2 separate regions of the Homo sapiens genome follow, and region 2 is linked to region 1. A link means that fine-mapping ties the variant in region 1 to the plasma level of a protein whose gene starts in the linked region. Region 1 holds a variant in brackets. A gene starts in the other region. All regions are shown on their forward strands.

Region 1 (2,911 bases):
CCACAATGCCTGGCTCATCTCTGGCACTGCTGAATGAGCAGGAAATAAACAAGCAGACAGAACATAAGCAAACACATGATTGCAAGACTGCAGAAAAAACAAATGCTTTGGTAGTTCATAAAAAGAAGAAATTATATCATGTTCTCATTTCCCACCTCTTACTTCTATTGCTAACATTGTGTGATACAGTGAAGCAATAGTAATACAATCATTGATTGATCCTACAAATAAGGACCTCCTATGGTAGGCATTAGAGCTATAGCAAAGAACAAGTCAGACATGGTATCTTCCTTCATGGAGCTTACAATACTCTGGGGAAGTACTTTATCAAAAAGGATGGCAGGGCAATCACTATTCTTAAGTTCTTCTTTGGATAACCCCATGGTTGCCATCTTGAAGATGGGAAATGCAGCCTCACCAAGGGCAAAGAATGAATCTAAGGGCTGAGAAATCCTTATCTATATAGGTCAAAAGGACTCACTTTTCACCTGAACAAATGAAATGGAGTAAAAGATACAGATCTGACTGATGCAAAGAACTACGAAAGTCCTGAGAACTGAATACAAAACATATCACATCCTGGGGACAAATGACTCTTAAAAGGTTCTTTAAATACCATGGTTAATTCTAATGCATACATCTTCATTTGTCACTTATTTTTGAGGATGAATTATTTTAATGCATCAATGAAAACTGAAAATTTTCGCATTGCCAAACACATTTTTATTAGAAAATTAACCATTCAACAACATAACCATGGTCCACACATCTAAACTATTATTATTTACATAATTAACAAAGGAATATTCAAGATACTGTGGTGCTCAACTACGTGCGAAAGTTCATACATTATATCTACTCCCCTTCCTCCTTTCCTCTTCTCTCCTTCTACCACCACCCTTTCCACCACCCACCCTCTGGGCTGGCGAGTCAGAATTAATCACTAGTGCCATTTCACTCCCACAAGACTTCGTGCCATCAGTAGAGGATTTCTCACTCCTTATTATATTTGTGTTTACATATCCGTATTCCCCATTAGATTATGAACCCCTCATGTGGGGTCAGTAACTTTATCATCTCAGGTGCTTGGCATAGCACATGAGACACAGACAAAGCTCCACATTGGTTGAACTGAATTTAATGGACTGTCCTGCATCAGCTGAGCCAATCACAAAAAATTAAATATTAGCAATTTGATAGTATTTGAAGAGAAATATTACCCCCCAAAGTTAAACTAATGCCATTTTCTATTAAAAATTACAATCTTAAATGCCTTCTCAGAGGTACAGTGAGGAAGCAATGTAAGCATATATTATCTAACTTCAAATCACTGGTAGATTTTTATCCCCTAAAGGCATACTTGATAGCTTCTGGCTGAATAACAGATGGATTTTTCTAACAAATGTGAGTGCAAAAGTAGGCATTTCACATGTAAAGATAATCAGTGACTTGAACTTTAGATATACATTCAATCAGTTGGTTAAAATAAGTTAGTTTTGGTTTACAACTAACATTTCTACTCTTGGTTTAATTCTGTAAGTAGAGAAGAAAACAGATAAAAGGCAGAAAATATCTAAGCCAAAGTGTTTCCCATTATTGAAGGTTCTAAAATAGACTTGGGAAGGTCATTTGTCAGAGATATTGTGAAAGATATACAAACATCAAATCAGGAAATTCAATTGAATGCCTTTTAAAGCCCTTTTTATTCCTGATGTTCTGAGATTTTTAAATCAC[T/TAC]ACACACACACACACACACACACGCACATGCACACACACACGTATGTATAAAACGTCTGCCTGAAATAGACTAGAATAACAACAAAAAAAGCCTTTTGCCTTGGACAAAAATAAAAGCAAATATTTTTCAAAGAAAGACTATATCATTTATTTTCAATGATAAAATTTAGAGTAGGGATTGGAAACTTCAATAATCTCTACATAAGATCTAAGATAATGAATATATGCCAATTGTTCAAGCAAAATTATTTTATTTAGCACCTATGTGCCAGGCAAAATTCCAGGTGCCAGAGATACAGGACTGTGTTCATTTCCTACTGCTGCTGTAACAAATTACCACAAACTTAGTGGTTTAAAACAACATAGATTTATTATCTTATAGTTTTGGAGATTGCAAGTCCAAAACAGGATTAACGGGGCTAAAAACAAGGTGTCAGTAAGCTGCATTCCTTCTGAAGGCTCTAGGAGAGAATCCATTCCTTGCCTTTCCAGCTTCTAGAGGCTGTCCACATTCCTTAGCCCATGGCTGCATCACTCCAATAACTGCTTTAATTGTTATATCTTCTCTAATTCTCATGAATCCCTCTTTCCGTATAAGGACCCTTGTGATTATATGGGGCCCGGTCAGATAATCCAGGATAACCTCCCCATCTCAAGAGCCTTAACTTGGCCGGGCATGGTGGCTCATGCCTGTAATCCTAGCACTTTGGGAGGTCGAGGTGGGCGGATTGCCTGAGCTCAAGAGTTTGAGACCAGCCTGGGCAACACGGTGAAACCCTGTCTCTACTAAAATACAAAAGAAATTAGCCAGGTGTTGCGGCATGCACCCGTAGTCCCAGCTACTCAGGAGGCTGAGGCAGGACAATCACTTGAACCTGGGAGGTGGAGGTTGCAGTGAGCCCAGATCGAGCCACTGTACTTCCAGCCTGGGCAACGAGACTCTGTTTCTTAAAAAAAAAAAAAAAAAAAAAAAAAAAAAAGCCTTAACTTAATCACATTGGCAAAGCCCTCTTTGCCATGTAAGGAAACATTTTCATAGATTCTGGGGATGAAGACATAAATATTTTTGAGAGGAATGGTTGTTCTGCCTACCTCAAGGAGTGAATAAAGAGGCCCTGCTATCATGGTTATACTCTAGTGGGTGAAGGAGAAAAGTAAATATGTAGATATGTGATGT
Region 2 (2,911 bases), not on the chromosome of region 1:
TGAAAGTGTTTGTGAATGTGTGTGTGAGTGTGTATATGTGAGTGTATGTGCATGAACGTGTTTGTTTGTGAATGTGTTTGTGTGTATGTGTGAGTGTGAATGTGTGGGTGTGTGTGAATATGTGTGCATGTGAGTGTGTATGTGAGTGTGTGTTTGTGAATGTGTGTGGGTGTGTGAATGTGTGTTTGTGTGTATGCGAGTGTGTTTGTGAATGTGTGGGTGTGTTTGTGTGTTTGTGAATGTGTGTGGCTGAGTGTGTTTGTGTGTGTTTGTGAATGTGTGTGGGTGAGTGTTTGTGTGAGTGTGTATGTGAGTGTGTTTGTGAATGTGTGTGGGTGAGTGTGTTTGTGTGAGTGTGTATGTGAGTGTGTGTTTGTGAATGTGTGTGGGTGAGTGTGAGTGTGTGTATGTGAGTGTGTGTTTGTGAATGTGTGTGGGTGAGTGTGTGTGGGTGTGAGTGTGTATGTGAGTGTGAGCGTGTGTGTGTTTAGAGTCTGCACTCTGTGTGGATCAGGAAAGGGGTCCTTGCAGGCTCGCTGAGTCCCTGCTCTGTGCCCAGCCCCGAGTTGGCTCCAATGGGGCTATATAGAAAGGAAGGCATGGCCGGAGGACCTCTGTGTCAAGTTGAGGACACATTTCCAAGACTAGGAACCATTCAGGGACTCTGGAGTCACGATGACAACTCCCCTTCCCTCAGCCCCGAAGCCCAGGCCTGGACCTCCAAGGGACTCAGGGAAGGGACTCAGGAAAGGGGAGTTCCCCCTGGCAGCCTCCTCGTGGGCACCACCGAGGGTGAGAGGAGCCAGCTCAGCGGGTCCCACCCCCAGGGTTGCCCACCTTGACCACAAGGAAAGGAGGGAGGAGTTATTGGGCCTTCCACTAGGAGGAGACCCGGGGAAGTGAGAGTCGGGGATCAGTCCTGCAAGCTACGGAGTCACTACAGGGAGAGGTCTCATCACTAGAAATAGCCGAAGAACCTGCAGCCTCAACCAGCGTTAAGGAGGACGTGCCGTTTCTAGGGAGTCTTAGTCGGGGCTCACCAGCTTCCTGCATTTTCTGACCGGCTCCAGGAATAGAACCAAAAGAAGCTGAACAAGGAAGCAGCGCGGCACCAAGAAAAGCAGAAGTCGGGGCCTTGGAGGCGTGACTTTCCCCTCGGGTCCAGGTAGGGCCTGGAGCTGCTGCAAGTGCCGCCTGTGCTGGGGAAGGGACCATGTGGCTGCCTTGGGCTCTGTTGCTTCTCTGGGTCCCAGGTGAGAGTTTCCCTTCCCGGGAAAGTCTGCGGCAGGGAGGGAGGGTGCGAGGGGCAGGGCCGCAGGGCAGGTATCACACGAGACGCCCCGAGTCTGGACTCCGTGCAGAACGCAGAATGCGGTGCGCTCTGTCTACCACATAAGATGGACAGATGAAGGTCCACACCCCTGGGAGAGGAAGGAGCCAGGGCCTCTCCCGGCTCTGCACCCACGTACCTTGGCTGAACCACAGCGGGGCAAGTGATAAGGGGTGGGTGCAGAAAAGGGACCTTTTAGGTTTTCAGTTGAATTCTTACAGGAAGGGGGACGAGAGGCAGGATGTGTCAGGGTGGGTGGAGAGTGGCAGCCACTGACTGCGAGGGGCATGTGGTGAGGGTGGGGGAGATGCCGGGCTCACTGGGTGCAGGGTATGGAGGAGGGGGGTGTGGGGAGGGTGGGGGAGATGCCGGCCTCACTAGGTGCAGGGTACGGAGGAGGGGGTGGGGCGGTGAGGGAGATAGGGTCGGGGTGGGGAGCAGATCGATAGTCTCTGGAATGCGGAGATTTAACCAGGGCAGCCCAGCGGCTGGGGCCTGAGCAGGGGGAAGTCCCGAGGCAGCCTTGGCTGGGGTTAGCCCCTGCATGGGCCTGAGAACCAGGGGTCAGTCCTCTCCAAGAAGGGGATATGGGACAGAGGGGACAGAAAAGGTGGTGGGGAGGGCGAGGAGGGAAAAGATCGGGCAGAGAAGCGCTGAGATCTTCTTTAGGGAGAAGCGTGGAGTTGAGTCTTCCCTGTCCAAGCGCAGGGATTCCTCCCGCAGAGTCACCTGCTGTGCCTTCAGTCACGTCCACCGCTCTCCTCAGACAGCTCCTGTGCAGACTCCTCAGGCCTAGTCCTAGGGTATTGTACGTCTTTGTGGTTGCTTTCCTTACAGATCGGAGGTTTTCTGCAATTATATTTGCTAACTACTTGTCTGTGGGAAGGTTATTACTTTTGGTGTCTTGACTTGGAAACGGGTCATCCTCCCATAACAGGTGCTCCTGCGATTCTCTTGGGTGTTCTTCTGTTTCATAGGGTCGGTGTGCATGGGAAGGTTTCAGTTCCTGTCTAATATCTGTTTCTCTTTCTCCCATTGACTCATTGGCTGGTACAGCCGGAGTGAGGCCCAGCGGACATAGTGGTAGTGGTTGTCCCTGCCTTGTTGCTGACTCAGGGAAAAAGGACCAGAGCTTCTCATTATTAGGAAGAAGGGATCCACCAATGACTATTCACAAAGCATTTTTACTTTTATTTATTTATTTATTTATTTATTTATTTATTTATTTTTTGAGATGGAGTTTTGCTCTTGTTGCCCAGGCTGGAGTGCAGTGGCGCGATCTTGGCTCACTGCAACCTACGCCTCCCAGGTTCAAGTGATTCTCCTGCCTCAGCCTCCCGAGTAGCTGAGATTACAGGCATGTACCACCATGCCTGGTTAATTTTGTATTTTTAGTAGAGATGGGCTTTCTCCATGTTGGTCAGGCTGGTCTCAAACTCCCAACCTCAGGTGATCCACTCACCTTGGCCTCCCAAAGTGCTGGGATTGCAGGCGTGAGCCACCAAGCCTGGCCAACATTTTTATTTTTTTGAGACAGGGTCTCCCTCCGTCACCCAAACTGGAGTGCGGTGGTGCAATCAC

Alleles and levels. Alleles are on the strand shown, and positions count from the first base shown. The strength of an association depends on the size of the effect and on how common the allele is.
For the plasma level of the protein whose gene starts at base 1,144 in region 2, TAC is the low allele of the variant in region 1 and T is the other (strong association).

What was found. PIP is the posterior inclusion probability: the model's chance that the variant is causal. The UK Biobank Pharma Proteomics Project read protein levels with antibody pairs (Olink). The fine-mapping took linkage between variants from a reference panel, not from the people measured, so its PIPs are less certain.
Region 2: CD300A starts here. The variant in region 1 is fine-mapped to the plasma level of the CD300A protein (UK Biobank, PIP above 0.99).

What each region holds. Positions count from the first base shown.
Region 1 is chr12:89,429,700-89,432,610 of GRCh38, forward strand. The region is part of intron 9 of POC1B-DUSP6 (POC1B-DUSP6 readthrough); the gene reads right to left. All of the region lies in intron 10 of POC1B (POC1 centriolar protein B), which reads right to left. All of the region lies in intron 1 of LOC105369889 (a long non-coding RNA gene), which reads left to right. Among named protein-coding and RNA genes, the nearest start is that of DUSP6, 79 kb to the left of the region's middle. The variant T/TAC (reference allele first, on the strand shown) is at 1,735.
Region 2 is chr17:74,465,491-74,468,401 of GRCh38, forward strand. CD300A (CD300a molecule) reads left to right here and starts at 1,144. Exons shown (of 7, transcript NM_007261.4): 1 at 1,144-1,253. The coding sequence starts at 1,214. LOC124904056 (a long non-coding RNA gene) reads right to left here and starts at 2,284. Exons shown (of 2, transcript XR_007065899.1): 1 at 2,060-2,284. RefSeq lists silencers at 1,636-1,695, 1,736-1,795 and an enhancer at 2,156-2,285.